4 linked regions of the Homo sapiens genome follow. The protein of the gene in region 1 interacts with the protein of each later gene in a pairwise test. Each region holds a gene or a part of one and is shown in the gene's direction. Other genes may lie near its edges. The genes, in order: CTSZ, KRTAP3-3, PLSCR1 and BACH2.

Region 1 (7,033 bases):
GACCAACCCTTCACCTGAACTCAGCTTGACATCCACCTGCCCACTCGCCCGCTGTCCCGGTCACCTGACACCTCCAGCCTCAGACCTTCAGGTCTGGATGGCTCCTTCCACTACTGTCACCTGACAGCCCATTTCTTCCCCAGTCCTCCCTGGCTGTCCTTCCGGCTATGCAGGCAAAAGCCTGGACTGGTACCCGACTCCTCTGTTTTCTGTCCCTCATATAATCCACCCACAAGTCTTGTCGGTTCTACCTTCGAAGCAGATGCAGAAATCACGCACCGCCCACCGCCTCCTCCAGGTCTAAGCCACACCGCCCCACTGCCGACTGCCCTCACTGGTCTCCTGGCCTCTGCCCCTGAGGCCACAGTGAGCCTGTGACAACCCATCAGAACATGTTCTTTGGCTTGAAACCCTCTCAGGATTCCACTCAGATAAAAGACAGAACCCTCTGGCCTTCAAGAGCCTTCACCATCGGGCTCCCTCCCAGTCCGCCCTTGCTCCCCTGCTCCTGCGGAGAGTGGAGCAGGGAGGTAGCTTCTCCCACCAGGCACCTCCTCTCTCCCTGAGGTCCCATGGCTCCCTCCCTCCCTCCTATGGATGTCACCTCAGCGGGGTCTTCCTCAGCCACCCTATGCATATGACACCCCACTTCCTGAATTATCTCCCGGATTTATTTTTCTTCATGGTGCTGTAGACTTTGCACAGTTACAGATGCTCCTTGACTTAACTGTGGGGTCATGTCCCGACAACCCCCTCGTAAGTTGAAAACACCATGAGTGGAAAATGTGTTTGACACACCCAGCCTCCTGCACACCCTGGCCTGGCTTTGTCTGCATTAAACGTATTCAGGACACTTGTGTTAGCCCACAGTGTGAGTAATAAGCCCGTTCCCAGATGGGGCTGGTGGGATGAAGGATTGAGTTTGGCCGTGGGAGAAGCTTGTGCATACCTCAGTGAGCTGGTTAGGCCGGGTCCAGATGCTTCAGGCAGGAGTAGACGGAGAGGCCAGAACCGAAACTGCTCATCCATCCGAGCTCTGCCTCTGGGCCAGGACTGCTGTCGCCGGGTTGGGTTGGGCATAGAAGGATAGGGCTCGGGGGCAGGCCATGGGACGCCCTGCACTGCCAAGTGGAACTCCAGAAGCCCAGGCAGGAGGTGCTTCCAGAAGGATGGAGCGACCGCTGTGCTGACTGCTGCCGGAGAGTGGTCAGCTCGGATGACAGTGGAGAAGTGACCTTTAGCAAGAGAGAAAGGGCTGAAGAGGAGCGGGGCAGTAGGGGTCGGGGCACTGTCTCAAACCATTGAGTGAAGCAGAAAACCGTGATAGTGAGTGGGAGGGGCCGGGGGCTTCCTCTGTTGTTGTGAGAAAGGCAAGTTTGGGGTGTGCAGATCTGCTTAGAGGGGGCATAGCTGACAAGGGAGCGGGGAGAAGGAAAGCTGGAGGGAGCCAAGTCCTTGGGAGGAAACAGGATGGAACCTAGGGTGGGTCGGTCAGGTGGGAGGGGACAAACCAGCCACCGGCTGCTCCAGGAAGAGGGTTTGGGGTGCAGAGCATGGGCAGGCTGGGTGGCGGCAGGATGGAGGTCTGCTTTGGGACTTTTCAGTGATGCGTGAAGTCACCAGAGCAGGGACAGTTCCAGAAGGCCCCTGGCTGGGCGACCGGGAGGAGGCCAGGTGGAGGAGCGGACTGTGGGGCAGTGTGGGAGAGTCTGGAAGGTGACAAGAGATGGAGGGGATGTGCAGGTCCAGAGGGGGCTGCCAATGGGCAGAGGGACTCCCTGCTCATTGTGCCCTGGGGGAGGGACAGGTGAGGCTGCAGGAAGAGTTCCGACTTGAACGTGGGGTCAGGAGATGAGGCCTGAGGCAGGTGCAGGGGTGTGTGGCTGTGAAATCATTGTCCTGGGAGGGCAGAGTGAGATGACCCTGAACATGGGCCCGGATTTCCTTCTAGGATCTGTTTTATTGCATTTGTGCATGGGAAGGGAAGCAGGTCCCTCGGTGACCACCCTGAGCTGTCCCTGGCTGCACCTTGGGATTTAGAGCCCAGCCACCTGGGCAGTGAGGGCATGGTCAGCCAGCCGCTGGGAGCCCTCTGCATCCCCCAGTGCCTTCGGGGCTGGGTCCCTGCTGGCCTTCCCCAGCCCTCAGGACCGCATCTGGCCCCTCACTGGGGCTCATGCGGCTCCCTGGGCTATACTCGTTCACAGAGCTGACACCTTGGCCCCCTGTCCACGAGGGCAGGGACGGTCTCTCCTGGCTGGCTTTGGGGTGTGGCCCACTTGCCATGGGTGGCTGAGTCTCTGTCCATTCAGCCCTTCATTCAGCAGGCACTTCTCAGGTGTCTGCAGGGCCAGATGCTGGTGACCGCCTGGCCCTGGCCCTGCTCTCATGGCATTTGTAGCGGGAGGTGTGGCAGACAGGACAGTGCCCAAAGAAGGCCAGGAGAGGCCTCTCTGCAGAGCGACGTCTGAGCGGAGACCTCCATGAAGAGGTCAGCAGGGAGAAGGAGACACAGGCAGCTGGGCAGAGCTGAAGGCAGGCCAGGCTGGGCAGCGCCTGCATCCCGCCTGAGGCGTCCAGGTCCGTTCGGGGAAGTGGGTGGAGAGTGGGTGAGTGCTGACTGGCAGGTGCTGACTGTTGCAGATCGGATCAACATCAAGAGGAAGGGAGCGTGGCCCTCCACCCTCCTGTCCGTGCAGAACGTCATCGACTGCGGTAACGCTGGCTCCTGTGAAGGGGGTAATGACCTGTCCGTGTGGGACTACGCCCACCAGCACGGCATCCCTGACGAGACCTGCAACAACTACCAGGCCAAGGACCAGGGTAGGCTGCTGCCCGTGCCCCCACTCCACCCTCCTGCCCTCCACTCCCTCTTCCACAGGCCTTCGTGGCTGAGGACCCAGCCTGACCCCGTGCTCCTCACATTGGCTGGTGGCTGGGGAGCTGCGGGAGGGCAGAGGTTGCAGCCCCCAGGGGCGCTGGTGCTCTTGACCATGAGGGGTAGTGTTCCCAGTGCCAGCTCCAGCCTCTCGCTGCAGAAGCCCCCTCTGCTATCTTGCACCCGCTTGGGCTGGGGATCAGAAAACTGGACCCCGTAGTCCCTGTTGAGAAGCCCAACGAAAAAGCCTGCTGCAGGAGCGGTCTGAAGAGCATCCTTGGCCATGCGCGCGGTGGCTCATGCCTGTAATCTCAGCACTTTGGGAGGCCGAGACAGGCAGATCACTGGAGGTCAGGAGTTCAAGACCAGCCTGGCCAACACGGTGAAATCCCGTCCCTACCAAAAGCACAAAAATTAGCTGGGTGTGGTGGTGCACACCTGTAATCCCAGGTACTCGGGCAGCTGAGGCAGGAGCATTGCTTGACCCGGGAGGCAGAGGTTGCAGTGAGCCAAGATCGCGCCACTGCACTCTAGCCTGGGTGACAGAGCAAGACTACGGCTCAAAAAAAAAAAAAAAAAAATACCGGCCCTGTCCCCATGTCTCCAGCCTCGTGGAAGAGTGTCTTGCTCCTGTGCCCCTTTGGCTGGGCCTGAATGTGGTGTTTGAGTTCTGACATGCTGGCATTTTGGTGGCTTTTTGGGCCTTTGTAGGGGAGAGGTGTAGGGGGCCTTGTGGAGGGAGAGTTCATTTTCCAGGAGCTTTGGTGGAGAGCAGGTGGGGAGGTGCTGCCCCAAACTGGAAGGAGCCATTGGCTTGGTTCCTGTTCTGGTGACCCAGGGCCCAGGTCCCCCACATTCAGGTGCGGCTACGGCCAAGGGGGTGCTGTGTGGATGAGCAGACCCAAGCTAGCCTGGAATCCCTAGAGCTGGCACATTCCTTTCAGGCTGCTCCCATTAGAAACAGAAGGAAAGAAAAGTCCAGACCCTAATCCCATAATTGGTAGGTTTTGTTTGTTTGTTTGTTTGTTTTTGAGAGGGAGTTTTGCTCTTGTTGCCCAGGCTGGAGTGCAATGGCACGATCTCTGCTCACTGCAACCTCCGCCTCCCGGGTTTGAGTGATTCTCCTGCCTCAGCCTCCTGAGTAGCTGGGATTACAGGCATGCGCCACCACGCCCAGCTACTTTTGTATTTTTTAGTAGAGACGGGGTTTCTCCATGTTGTTCAGGCTGGTCTTAAACTCCCAACCTCAAGTGATCCACCTGCCTTGGCCTCCCAAAATGGTGGGATTACAGGCATGAGCTGCTGCGCCCGGCCATAACTGGTAGTTTGTTTTTTTTTTTTGAGACGGAGTCTCGCTCTTTCGCCCAGGCAGGACTGCAGTGGCGCGATCTCGGCTCACTGCAAGCTCCGCCTCCCGGGTTCACGCCACTCTCCTGCCTCAGCCTCCGGAGTAGCTGGGACTACAGGCGCCCGCCACCGCGCCCGGCTAATTTTTTGTATTTTTAGTAGAGGCGGGATTTCACTGTGTTAACCAGGATGGTCTTGATCTCCTGACCTCGTGATATGCCTGCCTCGGCCTCCCAAAGTGCTGGGATTACAGGTGTGAGCCACCGTGCCCGGCCATAACTGGTAGTTTTAAGCCACCTGACTCAGATCTCCCTCACAGCCAGAGCAGAGAGCTGGGAAAGCCCAGCAGCTGCTTGCTTTGCTGCCTCCACCCCTGCCCCAGGCTATATAGGCTGGCCCCAGCGCCCTGTGCACTCTGAAGTGGCAGAAGGTCCTCTGGGCACCACCCTCTGCCAACGGGGCTCCCTTGCCTTGCCTCTCAGGCCTTATTGTTCAGCCAGAAATTCTCCTGGACTGGCTGAGTGAGTCCTTCGAGAAGGGGGACAGATGGAAGGTGCAGAGGGAAGGGCTATCAGATGGCTCTGGAAGCAGGAAGCAGGTATCAGGTGGTCTCCAGGGCCACGCCCACTCCACGCCAAAGTGCTCTCGCCCAGCTGAGGCCAGGCCCCTCCAACCCACCCAGCCTGACAGGAGCAGATGGAGCTCATCAGAAACCTGATTGTGTGACTGGTGACCGCGGTGGCTCACACCTGTAATCCCAGCACTTTGGGAGGCTGAGGCGGGCGGATCACTTGAGACCAGGAGTTCGAGACCAGACTGGCCAACATGGTAAAACCCTGTCCCTACTAAAAATACAAAAAATAGCCGAGCGCGGTGGCATGCGCCTGTAATCCCAGCTACTCAGGAGGCTAAGGCAGGAGAATCACTTGAACCCAGGAGGCAGAAGTTGCAGTGAGCCAGGATCATACCACTGAACTCCAGCCTGGGTGACAGAGTGAGACTCTGTCTCCAAAAAAAAAAGAAAAGAAAAGAATAAAAAAACCTGATTGCGATAAATAGTCATCTTTGTAGTGTTAGCAAAAGTGTGGCCACACATCCACCATTTTCCCGTAGTACTGGGCACTGGGCACTTGGTGTGCAAGGAACAAATTGAACCAGTGTCTGAGCCTCAAGGTGCTCATGTTCCTGGGGGAGGAATCCCGACAGATGTGTAACTATGACAGACAGGTCGCGCCAAAGCAGCGAATGGCAGGCCGAGGGCCGCCGTGTGGATGGAGTGAAAAGTGGGAACACAGTGACTCTGAGCCTTGCAAAACCGAGAGCTGTACTTTTTCTTTTTTTTAAATTAATTTATAAAATTTTTTTTCTGTAGAGATGAGGTCTCGCTCTGTTGTCCAGGCTGGTCTCAGACTCCTGGTATCAAGCCATCTTCCTGCCTCGGCCTCCCGAAGTGCTGGGATTACAGGTGTGAGCCACCACGCCTGTCCTTTCTTTCTTTCTTTCTTTCTTTTTTTTTGAGACGGAGTCTCGCTCTTGTCGCTCAGGCTGGAGTGCAATGGCGCGATCCTGGCTCACTGCAACCTCTGCCTCCCGGGTTCAAGCGATTCTCCTGCCTCAGCCTCCACTGAGTAGCTGGGATTACAGGCATCCACCACCACACCCAGCTAATTTTTGTACTTTATTAGTAGAGACAGGGGTTTCACCATGTTGGCCAGGCTGGTCTCAAACTCCTGACCTCAGGTGATCCACCCACCTCGGCCTCCCAAAGAGCTGGGATTACAGGCGCCTGGCCCTCTTTATTTTATTTTTTAAGCCTAATTCTTGATAACCTCTTAAGTCGAAATAACCAGAATTTTTTTTTTTGGTCCCCTCAGCGTGGGCACAGAAGAAAATGCTTTTTTGTGGTTGTTGTTACCCAAAGTATTGGCCTATTTATTCACCAGCCAGCAATAGAGACATTTTATTAAGTGCTAATCATTTGATTATGCTCCATTTTCAGCTAGAAAGTATTGTGGAAAGGTCCTTCTCCAGCCATTAGAGGAAAAAGGCGAACTCCTGGGTGCCTACTATGTGCTAATTAATGTCTGTCTCTTTTCTTCTCTGCCAAGGCCTGGGGAAGGGCTTTTCATAACTCCCTGGCAGCTGAAAGAAGAGCGTCATTAAGCAGCACCTAATAGCAAGATGATTTCCGTTCTTAGCTGCTGAGTGGTAGGCTGCATGATGAGAGTGGAGAGTGGGCTTGGCGGGCTTCTTTGTCAGTGGGTTGATGAGGAGACGGCCTCATGCTGACTTTTCTTGCTCTCCCCCAGAGTGTGACAAGTTTAACCAATGTGGGACATGCAATGAATTCAAAGAGTGCCACGCCATCCGGAACTACACCCTCTGGAGGGTGGGAGACTACGGCTCCCTCTCTGGGAGGGAGAAGATGATGGCAGAAATCTATGCAAATGGTCCCATCAGGTGAGGAGAGGTCCCGCGGGCAAAGAGAGGTTTGCGGGTGAGGAAAGGTCCCGCGGGTGAGGAAAGGTCCCGCGGGTGAGGAGAGATCCGCGGTGACAGCGCCAGTGTGGGCTCATGTCGGTGCTCATGTAGGCATCTCCGTCCTTCGCCACTTTCCTTCTGGCCGGTTGTACTCAGTAGGCTCGAGACAGCCACATCATTTCCCCTCTAAGAACTTCAGTTTTCTCAGAGTTAACACTCAGCTGATAGCAAGTCTGCCCCTATGGATGGTTGTGCGGAATGCGGATGAGACGCTCCAAGCTGTACCGAGGGGGCAGTTTCAGCAGGGAAGACACTATGTGAATAACA
Region 2 (5,576 bases), on another chromosome or scaffold:
AGATGTTCTACCACAGTAATCAATAGAATGCCAATACTTTTCAGGTGTCTCAGGTTGAGAGCTAAAACTCTGATTACGTATGCTTTAATTCGTTACTTAATTTTATCAACCTACTTAATTTTATCTCATGAAGATTTTTCTTTTCCAAGCCTAGAGAGAACAAGTATATATTATATATATAATACATCCAATACATTTATGTAACACATATAAATATATGTGTGTATGTATATCTATACACAATACATATATAAAGACACAAGTCAAAATCTGAAAATGCATTGAAATAAAACCACAAGAAGACATGCAAGAAACAGAGTAGGACAAGGAAGGGGAGAAGCAAATGCTTTTTAACAAACTTGTTTTAAAATGTCCTCAATGTACCTGTTAGTGTCTTGAGAGAGAAATTTCTCACGGGATTCCATAGGCTTTTTACAGCTCAACCTTAAATGAACAGAACTTAGCAGCCATGGAGTCTATGGGACACTACAGAGGATATTGTCAACAAGAGATCTAGTCCATTCACTCATTCATTTGTCCATATTTCCTGAGTGTTTGCCCTATGTCAGGCATCATATTGATGCCAGGAGTAAAAAGATAAAAGAAATGCTATTACCTCAAGTCTCAAGTGCCCTCAAGTCTCTCCCAAATCTAGTGAAGAAGAAAGACAAGTTATCATAATAATAATTGCAATGCTGAGGGATTCTGCTGTGACTGGGAGGTGAGCAGCATGGCATGCAAGCATACAGAAAGAATAACTAAAACCCTGATTTGGTGATTCAGTGTCAAAGGTGAGAAATAGCTACGGAAAGCCTCTGAGCTATCCAGTCTAAGCTTTAAAAGATGAATAGGCAGCAGGAGAGGTAGGGAACAGTTGTTCCAGACAGAATAGCAGCTTAATAAATCATGGAGGCAGCGGAAAGGTTGGTGTCTTTAAGCCACAGGAGGTAGTTGGGAATGACTGGATGAACAATGCATTGAAGAGGGTGAGGCAGAGAAGACAGAAATGCAAAGACCCAGACATAAGGGGCTCCTCAAAGCAAAGGGGTTTGGACTGAAACTTTGAAGCAATGAAATATTTCAAGCAAGAGACCAATATAATCATGTTTTGCTTCTGTCTCTTTTCATTATTAATCTTTGATTTACATCTGCACTGTCCCAGATCCCTCCATTGACTATAGAAAGATATAATTAAAACTGGACTTCTTGGATGTGTGAGTGTGCGTGTGCGTATGTGTGTGTGTGTCTAGATTTTTAGCACCCCGAAAATCTACCATCTCATCAAGAATCACCATGTTTTTCCTACATTCACTTAAAGAAAAAAGATACGCGTTGTTTTTAAAAATAAAATGCTTAGTATCTCTGACACATAGTTTAAACTTCCATTTCTAACCACATAAAAGGTAGCTCAATCCCAATAGGTCCTATATTTAGTTTTTAACACACTGGCTCCCGAACCATCTAAGGCAAATCATCTCACCTCTCTATGAATCACTGTCATCATTTATAAACAAAGGAGAGTAATTCTCAGGTCTCTTAGACCACTGCAGAGAAAATACATTTTAATAAAGTGCTGCAAGTCTTGTCAATAAAAGAGAAGAGCTTATTATAATAAACTTGTTGCATTACAACTGTTTGTAATCTGTAACCTTGTCTTATTTATGATTAGAGAAACACAATGTGCTGCATAAACAGTAATAGTTGCTCTAAGCTTTTATGGTGAACTCAAAGTAATATTGTATCCCAGGTAAGAAGCTGATAGCTTTCTGCCATGAAATTCTAATCCTGAGGGTCTGCAAGCCATGTTTCCTTTGTAATGTTTCCCTCAAAATAATTTTTTCTTTTATTTTTTGTCTTTTACTCTTTTTCTTTCCTATTATAATGTATAATAGCAGCAGCTTATAATAATATGTTATGTGTATGAAAAATTCTTCCACCAAACTGTAAACTTCATGAGGGCAAGGATGGTGCCTATCTTGTTTATTGCTATAAATCCAACATTTATCACAGTGACTAGCACATAGTAACTGCTCAGTAAATGTCTGTTGAATTACTTTTTAAATAATAAGTGAAATACTAATCAGTTCTAAGTAAAAGGGTGCACACTTCGGCAGGCATTCATACAAAGATAAATCTGGGGAAAGTCCAGGAACCAGAAGATATCATGAATTCTCCCTTTCAATCAGAGCCATAGGGAGCTTTTCAAATTTTTAGGTTTGTTAATTTATATGCCAACCACTTTCTCTAATCGTAGATGTGATTATTTATTTATTTATTTATTTGTATAAACTAATATAAATGTTTGCTCTTTCCTGTAAGGTTGCTCTCTTACTTACCTTCATCTCATTTTCTTTTCTTCTTTTGACTATGTTTCTTTTATCTTTACCTTGCCTTGAATTTCATCTGTAATTTGTTTCAATCATGATAATAATTTATTTTTGCATAGCATTATATGGTTGTCCATGAGCTTTCACCCTTTTTATCACATGTGAACCTCACAATAATCTTCTAAGTGGAGGAATATGCATGCTATTACCCTGATTTCGCAGAGAAAAAGGATGAAGCTCCTAAAAGTGAATTACTTACCATAACGAGGAAGATAACCAGCAGCACCGGGAACAGTCAAGAGCTATTCTGACTCCTCAGGTGGTCCTCTTGACTACACGTCCCCATTCCCAAAACATACAAACATGCACACCACAATGCACCACTCAACAGGTGTGCCTAAAAGAGGAGGTATGAAGAATGTGAGAAGAACCATGGCTTGCAAGAAGCATGAGACCAAGCTGAGCGGAAATGGTTCGAGGTGTATAAATGATATTGGCCACAAGCCCACCTTGTGCTCCCTCTTAAACACTGAACTATGCCTGCAGTCTAAATAGCGTACTGGTACTAGAACCAGGTCTTTCCTACCACAGCTACATTTGATTTCAGGAAAAAATGCAATACCTTGCAAAAAAAAAAAGAAAAAAAAGAGAGAGAGAGAATGAAATCAAATGTCAACAGATTAATCTAGCTCAGGCTCATAAGTTTCCTTTGGTAATAATTTTACTTGAATTTTAGTTTTGTATTCTTAAGTTATTATTTTATTTAGTCTATATAGACAGAAGCTAAAAATTCAATTTGCCCACAATTAGCAGTGAAGGAAACAAAGCAAGCCAACTCTCAATAGAAGACAGATGGCCAATATGCATATGAAGGAATATTTCAACCTAGCTGGTTATAAAAGAAATACAGACACAACAATCATAAAATTGTGTTTTTCACCAATGAAATTGGAAAACACCTTTAAAATAAAGTATCTGTCAAAGGTATACGAAATGGGAATTCTTAATCAAACACATCTGGTGGAAATAGATAATTTGAAAAAAAAAGTAGGTAAATAGAACCATTCTGAAAAACAGTATGGCAATGATATGAAAGGCCTTAAAAATACTGGAAATTAACATTTGCCCCTATAATTCTACCAAATAATTAATTCTGTTTCTGAAATAATCAAAAATATGCACAAAGATTTACATACAGAGGTGCTCTGTTGCCAAAATTATTGTAGAGAAAAGTGGAAAATAACCTCAATGCATAATAATATAAAATTTTAAAGTAACATAGAAGTGCAATTATATAATAAATGCTAAGAAATATTAAAAGTAACACTATCAAATATCCTTTAAAATATAAGATAATTATATATATATATAATATATATGCACACACACAAAGGCAAGTTTCAGAACCTATGCACAATATGATTCCAGTAATGTAATGTAATGATAAACAATGTATACAAAATATTTTGTAGTAAAAAACTAGAATAATAAGCGTTTTTTAAAGTTTTTCCATATTTCTTAATGGCATATTTCTTCATGTTAATGTAATTTTGATCTTCAAAAGCCTCAAAGCTAAAAGAAAGTAAAATTAAGTTCAACTCTTTAAAACAAGAATACTTTATCAGACAAATTGGTATAGATAAAGTGACAGATTAAAAATAAAGCAGCACTGGAGAGCAGGCCCACATATTACAGACTCACTGTCATGCAATATTCCCCAGCAGGGCTGGTGTTGAAAATATAATAACAGAAGGCTTTGGTGATACCTCATAAAGCTTGTGTTCCAGTGACAAATAGCAAGGGTAATCAGTTCAGATTTAGCAACGAACTCAAATAAAAGTTAATTAGGAAAATGGGGACTCTTTACAGAGTCTAAATGTCAAACAAATTAAAGAATAATGGGTACACTAACATAAACAAGAACCAGGAAAGAAGCCTCTTGGCTGGACCAACTCCCAGTGGAGAGGGTACATAAGAGCCCCAGAGAAAGGAGAGATATTCACACCTCAGAAGCCTTATCCTTCTTTTCAATCAAACCCATAAATACCACAGACTCTAATAGCCATGGATTGCTGTGCCTCTCGAGGCTGCAGTGTCCCCACCGGGCCTGCCACCACCATCTGCTCCTCTGACAAATCCTGCCGCTGTGGAGTCTGCCTGCCCAGCACCTGCCCACACACAGTTTGGTTACTGGAGCCCACCTGCTGTGACAACTGTCCCCCACCCTGCCACATTCCTCAGCCCTGCGTGCCCACCTGCTTCCTGCTCAACTCCTGCCAGCCAACTCCAGGCCTGGAGACCCTCAACCTCACCACCTTCACTCAGCCCTGCTGTGAGCCCTGCCTCCCAAGAGGCTGCTAATGGATGGCTACTTTGCTCAGTGCCTGAGATTGAAAAAGTCAACATAGAAGCTTTAGCATTCACCTATCTCAGTACCTACAACTAATGTACTCTGCTTTAGAAATTGGAACAAGGATGGTACTACCACAATCACCCCCTGCAAAAAAAAAGAGACCAAGAAACTTTCAATGACCATTCAGCTATAACCAACTGCAGTTTGAATCAGTGGATGCCTATAGCTTCCTGAAGCTGTTCGATTCCTTCATATTAAAGTGTCTCTTTCTGTGGGTGGTTTGGGAATTCTGTTTTCAGTCTTGGGTGGTATCTTTCTGAAAATTAAGGAAGTTCTTCATGATTATCCTAATAAATTTTACATCTCTGGCATAGCACAAGTGTCTACAATTACTTCTGTTTATTTCTGTTCATTCATTAAATGCGTTTCTTAACTCTGAACATTGGCATTTAAAGAAAAACTGGAAACATTAGTGAAACTGAAAATGGTGGCAGTATGGACAAAAATTTCTTAATTTTGCTGTTCTTGCTGTTTTAAGAAAATTAAACATCCTTGCATGTAAGATGGTCTAGTACATCGGCATATTTGAAAGTAGACTTTTCCTGACTTGTCCTCCCAAAAAATGGTTTCAGACAGGTTGAGAAATACTGAACATTACCCAAACACCAAATATGACAAAATATATAAACTAATCCAGGTGACATGATCTATTTATGAAAAAAATATAATAATGTCATTATTTATTCAACTAAGATTTATTAAATGTCTATTGTGTGTCCTGTGTTTTATTGTCTCTGCTGAAAATAAGCTAACCATCTGGCAGGTGAAGCAAATACAAACACAACATCCATTTGTTTCTTCCTACGGTTAATAATTATCGAATGCCAGTTGCTGTG
Region 3 (5,961 bases), on another chromosome or scaffold:
CCGTCAGACTTTAGCTATATAAAGATGAATCCTTTCCCCCATTGACTTCATAATCTAATGACAGAGATTTGCAGTTCTAAGGAGGATGTGATATAGAAACTTTAAAAAGGCTCTTATAAGGGGATTATATAATGTGTGTATGTATATGTGTGCATAATATGCATGTATAAAAATTTTATGTAAGGGTATGCATAATAGCAGTTCTTCATGTAAGGGATGGAATCTCTGTCCTACATCCAGAGAAGTGAAAAGTAATTTCTCATTCAAGGAACAATATTAACAGAAGTTTGGCTGGCATATATTTTATTTTTAGTAAATAAATGAAAACACTGGAAAAACATTGTGTAATCCTTGTATTTGATACTAAAAAATTTATGTTTCATCTGGCAGTCTTTCTTGATGGATACCTTAAAGCATCCATTCCATGTAATAAATTAACTTTTCTTCTATTTATCTAGAATGATGATATCAAGGTACTCTCATGGAAAGAATTGAGAAATAGTCACTTGAAGAATTTTCCATAGAGTTGACAATGGAAACTTTGACACCTCAAAGCAGAAATTATCAGTATGAGGGACCACTAAGGAACATGAAATCCACCAGGGTGTCACTGGGCATGGAAACTTGAAGTAATAAAAGAGATAAAAGCCTGTTCCACAGCAGGGGCAGGAGTCATTCTAAAACAGAGAATAACTCAAGAGGCATTTCATAGGTGTACTATGTGGAACTAATTCATGGATTTGATATCAATTGAGGATGAAAAAAATTTTGGAGATAAACTTGATGTGTTATTATTCTGATATTACATTGGCCAAGTTAAGAATCTTGGAGGAAAAACACTTGATTTGTGTCCTCTTGACCATTATGATAGTCTGCTTTTTAAAAAGTAAGGTATCAAATACTAATACACATCTAGGTCAGGGATCAGCAAAATATAATCAATGAGCTGTAGTTGATTATATAAAATATATATGGGAAGTTAATGACTTGAATTAAGGTCATGTTGGATTTTAGTTATGTATAGGAAAAGAATGGAGAGTTTTCAGCAAACAGACAGTAATTGAATCTCTAAGAAGGTTATCTTAATGGTGAGTAAGAGAGAGCCTAGTAGACCTTTTATCCAATATAGGTGATAAGAGAGTCTGTCTCCTTCAAGGACTCTTGGTAGGGGGAAAAAATATGGCCACATGAAACTGACATACCAAGTCAGCTCTGTCTATGAGCTTGAAATCTGAATTCCTGCCACTGTTGTGTTTCAGGAATCTCAAAATATAGAAACTGATCCTGAGTAGTGATAAATTTTATATGGTCAACTATAGCCCACAGATTTTTTTTCCTGCCCTCTCAACTAGATTTTCATTAGTATTCAATAAATATGTTTTTAAAAAGCAGACAATCCTAATGGTCAAGAGTATAGACACTGGAGCCAGATGCCCAGGTTTGAAACCCATCTTCACAACACTTATCTATGTGACTTTAACAAATTCTTTCACTTCTCTTTGCTTTAGTTTTTTTACATGAAAATTGGGTGTAATAACAGTAAATAAATAAATCATTAGTAAGTAAATAAAATAGCTTACCAGCAACTATTAATATACTCATGATACACTTTTTATATTTCTTTGCTACATACCTAGATCCTATATGCTGTCATTATATTTCAGTATTTTGCATTTATATTTGCATTGTGAGATGAATCTATGGTTTTCTTTTTAGAATGCTTTTACCAATTAGTATTGCACTCATGGATTTGAAAGTTTAACATTATACAATACCAATTTATTATTTCCAAATGTTGACATTTTATTATAGTGATTTTCTATTCCAAAATGTCTACAATTTAGCTAAAAATTATCTAGTCCTGCTAATTTATTGGTTGAAGATCATTATTTGCATTTCTTATCCTTGCCATAAAAAATGTATTCTCTACTTTGTTAAATTTCTTGCTGTAGTAATCAAAAAGGGCAAATGTTAATATCTTTATCTGTATAGTGTTGAGTTTACGGTGGCTAGTAAGTTGTCAGCTGCATTTTTCATTTTTTTAAATTTCAGAATTAAAAAATAAAACATAAGAGTTTTCATTACTAGCTTCAAATGCTTCAATGACAGCTATTAGCAGAAAAATACTAACATGTACAAGAAAGGATTTGTATTAGTTTATTTCACCACAGTAGTATTTCATTACACATAATCCCTAAAACTCAGCAGCTTGCAATAAGTGTTTATACTCATGCTTATGGGTGTGTAGGTCAACTGTGTTTCAGTGGATGTATTTAAGCACTGACTTAGGCGCATGTTAACCTCAATCTGCTCCAGGTAGATTTGTTCTATGGCTGTAGCAGCAGCAGCTACCTGAGTCATGCTTTTCTAGTGGCTTGTCACTGAAGATCATAAGCCAGGCCAAAGCACTTAGCCAAGTTTAAGGACACTACTCATGTCATATCTGCTAACACCCGTTGTTCAAACAAGTAACATGGCCAAGCCTAATTATGAAGGAACAGGAAGTATACTGGCCCTACAGAAGGAGAGGGAATGAAATGAATATTTGATGAACAGTATTATGCTATCAGCTTCATATTAGATGTTTATTTCTAGTATTTTACAAACTATCCACTTGTACTCAAATAAAATGAGTCAAGTATTTTTAGATTCCCCACATTTATTTAGCTGAAAAGGACACTCCTCTGTTAATACAACTATATGTGTACATAGTTTTGTGAATTTCAGCTACATTCAGTCCCCACCTGCCCTCCTAGAGGAGTTGCCTTAGTCTGAGCAAAGTCCATTCAACCCTATATGATGGCCCTGGGCTTTCCTCAGGCAGAATTGTAAAATTAGGAAACTTCTACTTCGGAGCTCATTTGTTCATACACTCTTCATCTTTTATTCACACCCCACTAGTTATCCACTCTCAACCTCAACCCTTGGCGTGGGGCATTTCATCAAGTTACTTATTGGTATTTGCCTTTACTCCAAACTGCTAATCTTTTCTAGGTGCTTAGCATTTCATGTTTGGCAACTCACAGTGGGTAGTAATAAGCCTTTTCATCATATTTAATCTTTCAGTCTGTGTAAACTGTGCTTCTCCTAAAGCAGAAGTCTAATAGGAGTTTTGTTCATTAACTTCCTGATGGCTTCTAGAAATGTCATCAAAGAAACATTTCATATTTATATCCTTTTTTGCTTAAATTTTCTTTTGGGTCAATTCAAATAATTTATTAATGTCTATATTAATATAAAATAGAAATTGTTAAATATTTCAGGAAAACTTTCTGAAATATAATTTCTCCGTACAATGAAACAGTTTTTTTCATATATCTATAAATAGATACAGGAGCCTCCAGTTATCTAATGAGGGTTACATATGGTGCATAATTTTAATACCATATTTGTTTCATCTTACTTCAAATTTGAAAGTACTTTTGCTATAAGTTTCCTAAAAGTATTTAATACTTTTTTTTTTCAATTTAGATTAAATCTCTTGATGAACAGTGTGTGGTTGGCAAAATTTCCAAGCACTGGACTGGAATTTTGAGAGAGGCATTTACAGACGCTGATAACTTTGGAATCCAGTTCCCTTTAGACCTTGATGTTAAAATGAAAGCTGTAATGATTGGTGCCTGTTTCCTCATTGTAAGTCTGTTCTTATTAATCTTGATTATAGATGCTTTCTCTAGGTTCATTCTGAAATGATTCAGTAAAGTGTATATTTCAAAATGACATTTTAAAATTTATAGATTTTAAATCAGGATTCCCATTTAATCCTAGCTCTGAAATTCTATTTGATCCTGACACTCTGGGGTCACAGGTGACTAGTTTCTACCTGAAGAGTCTATGAATATTCACATGGCAAGAGGGGGACTAAGGAGATGTACTAAGGAGAGATTTTAGTCTCCCCTTAAATCAGGCATCTCCTAGATGCTTTGAGGAAGAAGTTGAAAGTAGGCATATGTGGAAAAAATTTAGTGAAACAAGGAAACTTTACCATGACTCATAGTAATTAAATTAAACCATCTAATATAGGAGTATGAAGTACAATAAGAGTGTACATTCACTCAAGTGTGTAGACCTAACTACCAAATTACAGGAAATAATTGGATATACCAGTGATTCTGAAATTGCCTTCACATTAGAACCACCTAGGGACTTTAAAAACTCCAAGGACTAGTCCATACCTCAGTTCAACTAAATCAGAAACTTCGAAGTTCATATAGTGTTCCAGGTGATTCCAGTATGCAGCCAAAGATGAGAATTATGGGGATAGAGAAAAAGTAACATTTAGAGAAAATGACTGGAAGATTAATTAAATTCATACAGGTATCAATAAATGAATAGAATTATAGAATTTATTATTAAAATGGAAAGCCAAAGGCAGAACTTATATAATTATAGAGCTTTTGTATATTTACTTATTACATTTAATTTTTTTAACAGATTTGTTACTGTGTTTCACTAGATCCCTTAGTATTTCTGCATCTGATAATTGATCTCTGTTTTGTTGTTGAAAATTCATTTGTATACTTTTGTTTTTATCTAGGACTTCATGTTTTTTGAAAGCACTGGCAGCCAGGAACAAAAATCAGGAGTGTGGTAGTGGATTAGTGAAAGTCTCCTCAGGAAATCTGAAGTCTGTATATTGATTGAGACTATCTAAACTCATACCTGTATGAATTAAGCTGTAAGGCCTGTAGCTCTGGTTGTATACTTTTGCTTTTCAAATTATAGTTTATCTTCTGTATAACTGATTTATAAAGGTTTTTGTACATTTTTTAATACTCATTGTCAATTTGAGAAAAAGGACATATGAGTTTTTGCATTTATTAATGAAACTTCCTTTGAAAAACTGCTTTGAATTATGATCTCTGATTCATTGTCCATTTTACTACCAAATATTAACTAAGGCCTTATTAATTTTTATATAAATTATATCTTGTCCTATTAAATCTAGTTACAATTTATTTCATGCATAAGAGCTAATGTTATTTTGCAAATGCCATATATTCAAAAAAGCTCAAAGATAATTTTCTTTACTATTATGTTCAAATAATATTCAATATGCATATTATCTTTAAAAAGTTAAATGTTTTTTTAATCTTCAAGAAATCATGCTACACTTAACTTCTCCTAGAAGCTAATCTATACCATAATATTTTCATATTCACAAGATATTAAATTACCAATTTTCAAATTATTGTTAGTAAAGAACAAAATGATTCTCTCCCAAAGAAAGACACATTTTAAATACTCCTTCACTCTAAAACTCTGGTATTATAACTTTTGAAAGTTAATATTTCTACATGAAATGTTTAGCTCTTACACTCTATCCTTCCTAGAAAATGGTAATTGAGATTACTCAGATATTAATTAAATACAATATCATATATATATTCACAGAGTATAAACCTAAATAATGATCTATTAGATTCAAATATTTGAAATAAAAACTTGATTTTTTTGTATATTTGATTTTTGTTTTTAAACGAAATGTGTTCAGATGGTATTTTGAGCACTCATTCAGTTAAATGATGGTACATTTGAAGCAGGATATTTCCCTGACCCCTTCACAGGACTCGAGACAGGGGTGCCTTGTTTACTCAGCCTGCCATTCTCAACTCCTCCTGGGAGGGAGTGCACAGGCAAACAAGGCAGGAACTGGAGTGTACAAGCACTGGAACTGGCTGGCCGCTTTGGCATGGGCAGGAACAAACTGTGCAGGCCCTGTGGTAGCATCCAGGTGGGGTTGCCTGCGATTCCTGAAGCCCCAGAAGATGTGTTAACAGTGCTCTTTTAGCTCTGCTGTCTGTGGACGGCTTAAGTGTTAACAGCTCAGTGGGCCCTTTGCCTTGTCATGTGGGACAGCTGCCCTCCACCAGCAAGGGCAAATGGCGAATGTGAGAGCCTTTTATATCGGCACTCATGGCTCCCAGGCTCTTGTCCGGTGTCCAGGAAAAATGTGGTCAC
Region 4 (7,381 bases), on another chromosome or scaffold:
GCTATCATACAAAAAAGATCTGTACATTCTTAATTTTTTCATTAGTATAAATTATAACACATACAATTTCTATATAATTTTAAATATTAATATATAAAAGTAATAAAATCAAATACAAAATTACATTTTTCAATTGTTTCATGTATATTAGTTTTGACTCCTTATGTAGATTTAAGTTCCTTAAGGATACAGTCCAATGTTTCTTAATTTTTCACCTCAACATGTAACAGATGCTCAGTAGTGTATGTTGAAAAATTAGTTTATTTCATATACCATATTTTACTAGTTTATTTCATATAAGCTTTTAGATAATAGTGGCATCAATTCTTTACTATAGAAGAAGATCACTATAGATAGTAATATAAGAACATCACTTTCTTTTAGGGACTATTTCCAAAGTCCTTCTTAGGAACTGAGGCAATCTTTGAGGAGATGAAGATGGGACAGATAAGAGATATACAGTTTGAAGGAAAAAGGCTGCCAGCCAAATTTAACAATAGCTAGAAGCAAAATTTTTGCTTTTCTGGTTTGGATTGCCCTGATCATTTTTCAAAACTTGTGTGAGATTTTGTACAATGAGAAATCTCTTCTTGGCAGTGGTGTGTCCAGAAAGCCCCCAGGAGTGGGCCCCCAAGGTCCTCTGTGCCGTCCAGCAATTCTGCCACATCCCTGGCACTGGTTCACATCTTTTCTCTATCCCCTAAATCTATCCTTCCCTCCTCCACTATCAGTGAACGGTCTATCTTCTTACTCCACTAAGAAAACAGAATTCCTCAGACAACGGCTTCCCATACTTCCTACCATGATATTCCAGCCTCCCTGCACTTCCCCACCTGTGCTGCCCTTCCTTCTGTTGGTTGGGATGAACTGGCCCCTTTCTCTCTCAAGGAAGCTTCTCAGCTTCCTTGTGGGGATCTTTTTTTCTTCATCTTGCTGACCTCTAAATGTCGGAGTGCCCCAGGTCTTAAACCTTAGACTTCTTCTCTTTGCTCCTCTTCTCCACCCATGTTTCCAGTTGCTGTGTTGATGACACACAGATTTCTATCTCTAGTCTGGACTTCTCCCCTAAATTCTAGATTCCCATGTCTGATTACCTGCTCACCTTTTCCACTTAGATGTCTGATAGACATCTGAAATGTACTATATCCAAAACCAAATGTTTCAGCATTTCCCCCATACCTGCTCCGCCTGGATAAATGAACTCTCCATTAATAAGCTGTTCAGTCCAAAATTCAGAATTTCCTTTGACTCTTCTCTCATATCCTACAATGGAATCATCAACAAATCTTGTCCGGTTTATGCTGAAAATATATCTGGATTCCATTTATGGCTGTCATTCTAGCATTCTATTAATAGTTTAAATCACCATCACCTCTCTAATGACTTATCTCAATAGCCTCCTACTTGGTCTCTCTGCTTCCATTCCTGTACTTCCCGTGACCCAGCAGAGTGATCCTTTAGGAGTTGAGGCCAGGACATGTTCCTTGTCTGCAGAAACCCCTACAGCATCCCACTCCATTCACTTTTGTCAGATTTCATTGGATGTTAAATTTGCCCTGCCATGCCTTATTCAAGGTACCACATTTGAAATTCTGTCTACTGTTCTGCCTAAGAAAAAATACAATATTTTCTCAACATCATCAAATCCTGTACAGGGTGCTGGAGAGCAAGAAAATCAAAGGCTCAAGAACTGCCCATGTCTTTAGTCCGTCTTCCTTTCCTCATCTGTTTCCTGTATATTTTAATTTTTCCTGTTTTATTTTCTACAATCAAGAAGATTTCTATTATAGAAATAAAGTTTATTTGTTTCAATGCCATGATACAGATTTATTGTCCCTGGAAATATCATGCTTAGAAATGAATCACAGACAAAGCCCATGCTCTGGATCAACACACATGTGTAATTATGTAGGAAAAAAATGTATATCAGGAAAGGTTGAATGCTCCAGGCATGAGAAATAAATTGACCTCCACTCAACTTACTGCCATGATTATACAGAGGGAAGGACCTGGATCTGTTTCACATCATAAACGCCTAAATTGCCAGAGCAGCACAAGCCCAGGAGTGGCCATGCAAACTCATGATGGAGGTGCTAAGGCTGTCCACAGCCCAACCTCTGCAGCAGTACTGTTAAATGAGTGTCTAGTACTTGACTTACCATTTTAATTTCACATAATTCTGAATGTATTTTTCGGCTTGAATTCAAATAACCCACTTCTAACTACCGAAAATAAAGTAGAAAAATGAACTCACTACCAGACTTCAAAGCTTATCCAAAGCAAAGATTTCGTCTTACAGCCAGAGGTGCATGATTGCAGAGCTGGATGTAACCTGAGAGGCTAACTACTCCTAATTCAGCCTCCTTGAATGACTGGATGATGCAACCTATCACAGGTGTTTTAGGTTTTTTCATCTCTATTTAATGTCCCACCTCATGCTTGAAAATCTCAAAGTGAAAAAGCTCCAGTCTGAGTCTTTGGGCAAGCAGACTAACTGAAATGACCTGTTAGCCTTTGTTGTATCCATCTGACAAGATCAGCTTGTAGAATCCAGAATGGAGGTGGGAGATCAGCTGGCAGCCTCATTTCCCTCCTCAACCACCCCTACGCTGATGTGCCCAACTCCACTCACAGCTGGGCAGCCACCGCTTGCTTGAAAATAAATGAATCTACACCACTCTCATACGGATGCTCTCAAGCATCCCTTGTTGTGAGAAAAACATTTATTGCTGCTACTAAAATGCGTAAAGTTATCTCACAAACACATACTTACAAGAATGAGGAATGAGAAACAGAACCATCCATAAAACTATAAGAAACGGCCTGGCCAGGGCAGACCAGGAATTAGTACTCTGTCCTTGCCAGGGGTCAGGCAGGGACCTCAGAAGCAGGGTGTTTTGTCCTAGGGGGCACCAGACCAGAGGTCAGGAGACTGAGGGCTACTCCTAGCTCTAGGACTTTTCCTTATCTGAAGGCCGGGTCGGTTAGCAGAGAAAATCTCACAGTCCCGTGCCAGACCTCCACGCAGGGACTCTGCAGTGCTGTTAGAAAAATTAGCTCAGCACCTTCAGCTTGCTTTCAGCCATCACTTAGCTTTCCACACAGACATTCCAAATGGGGCCTTTCAAAACTCTGCCCTCAAATGAAGGTAGTTCAGAGCAACACTTTAGATGATATCACAAGACTCCCAGGACGCTTCACTGCTTCCTCAGCATACGCCAGTGCCCGTTTTACAGGGGGGATTTATGATCCTTCTCTCAGTAGAGCGAGCCAAACTTTTATAATATTCATTAAAAATCAGCACCACGTGTAATAATATGGAATACTGCCTGTACACAAGAGGGCCAAGTTATAGGTGTTTAGGGAAACGTGGCAGAATTTTCTGGCCTTGGCAAGAGGTAAAGTTGCAGGCACCAGCACAACACTAACACAACCTTATTTTATTGCAAATGTACATTCAGCCTAAATCCTAATTACCTTCTGTAAAATCCTAACCACCACCAAGCTTTCTTCTGACAGGGCACTCACACGACGGCCTTTAAGGGCAGCAACAACATCCTAAGAGCCGCAGAAAGGAAAGGCAGGGGAGAGTGGCTGGAAGGCAGTAGGAGCTGGGGCTGAAGCCCGGGAGGTTGGCTTTTAATGTCCTCCTGAAATTGACCACTCTCTTTCCAAAAACACTGGCTTGGGGGCTTAAAGGTTCGCTCAGTAGGGCAGGCGGAGGGCCTCCTGAAAAGGATTGAGAAGTCAACATTCAAAAGGCTGCTTTTACTCGCCCGGTCCCCACCCAAAAGGGAGTCCGGTCAGCTTTGTGGGGGCCAGTGGAGCATCTTTTCTTGCCCTTCCGGGAAAACGCTAGCTAACCCTGGGATCCCCGGTCCCGACGTCTGCTCTCCTTCCCCAGGTGCAGCACCTAGGGCTCTGGCCCCCTCCCCACGTGCCACACCAGCCCTCACCACTACTCTCACCCTGCTATGCCCCCAACCCTCGTCTTTCGTGGCCGGGAAGGCCAGGCCGAGCGGGGCGGTCAGCCGGGCCGGGAGGAGGGGGCTCTCCGGGCCGCGCGGCCGCACAAAGCGGGGAGATCTGCTGCTGCGGCGGCATGAGGCGCGCCCCCTCCCGCGAGCCAGCGGAGCGCGCGCGCCCGCCCCCGTCCCCCGCCCCCCGCCCCAGCCCCCGGAGCGCCATTCGCGGAGCGGCTTACGCTAGTCGCCGGGCGTACCGCGCCCCAGCGGCCGGGGAGGTGCGCTGCCCGGCTCCCGTAAAGTTATTGTGAATGGGGAGCGGGTGACGTCAGCGCCGAATGTCAACAATGTAGCGATTGAGAGTGTGGGCGTTCCGGGGAGAGCGCAAGCCGCGCGGCGCGGAGCAAACAGCGCCGAGCCGCCGCCGCCTCAGCAGCAGCAGCAGCAGCAGCAGCGGCAGCAGCGGCCGTGCACGCCCGGGCTGCGGTCGCACAGCGCTAACGTGAGCGGCCGCCGCCCTCGCCACCCCGCCTGCCCACTCCCGCCGCCGCCCCGCTCTCGCTTTCCCCCCGGCCTCCCCTCGCCCCTTCCCCTCCCCCTTCCCGGCGCACTCGGGGGGCTGGGAACGAGCTGCCATGTGATGCGCGTCCCCTCCGCGAGCTTTCGGTGACCCACGAACTGCCCACCTCGCCGGCTGCCGGGAGGGGGCTGCGAGCCGGGAAGACGCGGGGAAGAGGAGGCGGAAAAGGACGCAAAGTTCTCCGGCGAGGTGAGTCCCGGGCCCCGGGCCCCGGGCCCCGCCGCTGGGCGGGGTGGCGGGGCAAGTTTGCGGGGGGAGCGGGCGCGCGGGGCGGGCGGGGAGGCGTGGGGAAACGGCGCGGGAAGGGAGCCCCGGCCGCCGGGCGCGCAGCCGCCCTCCCCGCGCCCTGCCCGCTTTTATGGCATTTTCTAGGAACGGGAAGGGGGTGGGAGCCGAGCCGGCGGCCGCGCCGCGCCGAATGTGTGCTCTCCCTCCCGGCTGTTTACGGCGGCCGAGGCGCATTGTATTTTGCTGGCGTCGAAGGGTGTTTTGGAACAGCAGAGGGAGGAGGAGCAGAGAGTAATAAGTCAGGCATGGGGAGGGCGGGCTGCAGGAGGCGCGCGTCCGCGCGAGCCGCAGCAGCTGTCAGACCCGCGGCCCTGCCCCCGGCCCGGCGAGGCCCGGGTGTCCCGGCCCCCAGCCTGCGATCCCAGCTCCAGGCCGGGCGGCCTCCTCCTTAACCCTCGGCGTGCGCATCCCGGGCTGCTCCGCGAGGACCTTGGCCGCGGCGCCTTTGCGCTCAGCTGTCAGCCGCCGCCGGGTGGCCCGGACCACCGCGACCGGCGGGGAATCAAAGCCCAAGTTTAGGGTCGCAGGAAGAGGCGAGCTGGGGGCCTCGCGGCGCAGACCTGGATCGAATCTCTCCTAGCGAAAGATCGGGTTGTCGGAAAGCGTCCCGCGTAGCTAAGACCTAAGGGCGCCAGGCTTCTGAGAGGGAAACCTTGCACCTCCTCTCCCACAGATCCTCCATGAAGTCAAGGTGCAACACACACACACACACACACACACACACACCCTACACTCCAGTCTCCAAGCCCCAGAAGCTTCACCCAGGAGACTGGTTTATGAAGGGGACACTGCCCTCCCCGTCCCCGCGTCGAGGCGCTCCGTGGCCCCGCTGTGCTTCGCTCACCCGGCGGGTGTTCGGGAGCCCGGCGCCGCTGGAGACGGCGGCGGGCGGCGCTCACGGGCTACCCTAGGTGCCCACGAGGGGAGAGACTGGAGCGAGCATCTCGGCGACCTCGGTCTGGCCAAGCATTTGCAGGAACTCGGACCGTGAGGGGAAGCGTGCAGGGCCGGGAGTGAGTGTGTGAAGGGGTGGCACACTCCTGGCTTCTGGGGTCGCGGGCGCATGGGGCATCCCCAGCACTCTCCCGCGCGTAGGCGAGTTTGGTAACTTGAGGGAAGTTCCGGCGCGGCCGCTGCCGGGGTGGTTTGTCTGTGGCCCGATGAGGCGCGCCTCGCAGCCTGCTCTCCCGGTCACCGCCGTCGCCGTGACCTGTGGCCTCCAGGAAACGAGAGGGACCGGGGCGCCCCACCCGCGAGACGGACCCGCAGTCTCCCGGCGGGCCCGCGGGCGGCGAGACGCGGCGTTCCTGGTTTTCACCTTCGCTGTCTAGTGCTGCAGTCTCTCACTCTCTGTAAATTTCATCTGTTGAGTGTATTTAACTAAAAAGGGTAATTACTTTAGATAAAAATCCTTTCCTGCCTAGTGGGAACCTTGGCGGAGATGATGCCTAATGAGATATTTTGCTTTTGTCTGTTTAGAGTAAAATTAGAGATGTTAACGCTGATAACGGTTTTCTCAGATCATTAAAATGTAACATGTAGGAAAGGCACGTCTTGCTGCAAAGGCTCGGGCTGACATGAAAGAAGCTGAGCGTGAAAGGCTGCCCCTCCTTTGGCGGAGAGGGCTATTTTGGTAAGGCAGCGGGCGTCTTGCTTAAAATGTGAGATCGCCCCACCCTGGTTCTCGGGCACCTCCCGAGTAAACGGCGTTTTTCATTCTTGCAGGTAATAATAAACGTGAGTCAAAATGACATCTTGTTAGAATTAGTCTTTAGTCTGTAAGAGAGATTGCCAAATTACAGTGTTGCGTTCAAACTGCTCCACTGAAAGGTCTGTCAGCATTTCCATTATAAATTCAGTTTTTCTGGAGTTTATAATTTCACCACAAAACTTTGAGTGGCTGAAATGTTTTCCCTTCTAGTATTCTGGTTTTTGAAAGAAATTTATTGATTGCCCATTTCCAACGTTTTTTTTACTCTCGAAACCTGAATATCATTGAAATAGAGCGAAGTCCCAGAAATGGAACACACAACCATGGAATAAAGTATTTTTGTTAGAACATAACTTTATTGGTGCAGAGCCGTATTTTCGTTTTGCATTGCAGGAGGCTTCAGGTTTGCCATTTGGTAATCATGAATGTGTTGAGTAAATTCTTCTGCTGTCTGTCTATTCTGCAGGTGGACTGAAATGTCAGTTGGTAGTGTGTTTGCCAGGATTACATGGAGACACACACTTCTCAGTTAAGTGTGTGTCTGAACTCATAGCTAAATTGTGAACACTCCTGTTAGTTACTTTTTTGGTTCTTTGTATGTTGCATGTCAGGATCTGCTATGAAGAAGAAGGGGTGAGGTGAAAGAGAGGGAGGGGATCAGGATTCACTTTCTGTATTACCAGTGCCTGGGAGAAAGCCATTTATTATTTTCCTATTGAATTATGCCCTTTGACTTAGTATCTTCAGGCAATTCTTTTCCAGTAGCTCACCTCTGGCTGCTGTGTAAGGGGCTTAATTATTTGCAAACTGCCTTGAAATCCCTGGATGAAAGGCACT

Evidence for each region.
Region 2: the proteins of CTSZ (region 1) and KRTAP3-3 interact in binary tests that used the Homo sapiens proteins (3 or more experiments, as listed by UniProt).
Region 3: the proteins of CTSZ (region 1) and PLSCR1 interact in binary tests that used the Homo sapiens proteins (3 or more experiments, as listed by UniProt).
Region 4: the proteins of CTSZ (region 1) and BACH2 interact in binary tests that used the Homo sapiens proteins (3 or more experiments, as listed by UniProt).

Annotation. Positions count from the first base shown.
Region 1 is NC_000020.11:58,997,255-59,004,287, reverse strand, and holds part of CTSZ (cathepsin Z preproprotein), read left to right. Parts: intron 1-2,643; coding exon 2,644-2,823; intron 2,824-6,534; coding exon 6,535-6,685; intron 6,686-7,033. UniProt on the Homo sapiens protein: Exhibits carboxy-monopeptidase as well as carboxy-dipeptidase activity. Capable of producing kinin potentiating peptides.
Region 2 is NC_000017.11:40,992,913-40,998,488, reverse strand, and holds KRTAP3-3 (keratin-associated protein 3-3), read left to right. Parts: upstream 1-4,324; 5' UTR 4,325-4,391; coding exon 4,392-4,688; 3' UTR 4,689-5,059; downstream 5,060-5,576. UniProt on the Homo sapiens protein: In the hair cortex, hair keratin intermediate filaments are embedded in an interfilamentous matrix, consisting of hair keratin-associated proteins (KRTAP), which are essential for the formation of a rigid and resistant hair shaft through their extensive disulfide bond cross-linking with abundant cysteine residues of hair keratins.
Region 3 is NC_000003.12:146,514,678-146,520,638, reverse strand, and holds the end of PLSCR1 (phospholipid scramblase 1), read left to right. Parts: intron 1-3,471; coding exon 3,472-3,633; intron 3,634-4,537; coding exon 4,538-4,594; 3' UTR 4,595-5,459; downstream 5,460-5,961. UniProt on the Homo sapiens protein: Catalyzes calcium-induced ATP-independent rapid bidirectional and non-specific movement of phospholipids (lipid scrambling or lipid flip-flop) between the inner and outer leaflet of the plasma membrane resulting in collapse of the phospholipid asymmetry which leads to phosphatidylserine externalization on the cell surface.
Region 4 is NC_000006.12:90,293,833-90,301,213, reverse strand, and holds the start of BACH2 (transcription regulator protein BACH2), read left to right. Parts: upstream 1-4,370; 5' UTR 4,371-4,734; intron 4,735-6,007; exon of another isoform or gene 6,008-7,381. UniProt on the Homo sapiens protein: Transcriptional regulator that acts as a repressor or activator. Binds to Maf recognition elements (MARE). Plays an important role in coordinating transcription activation and repression by MAFK.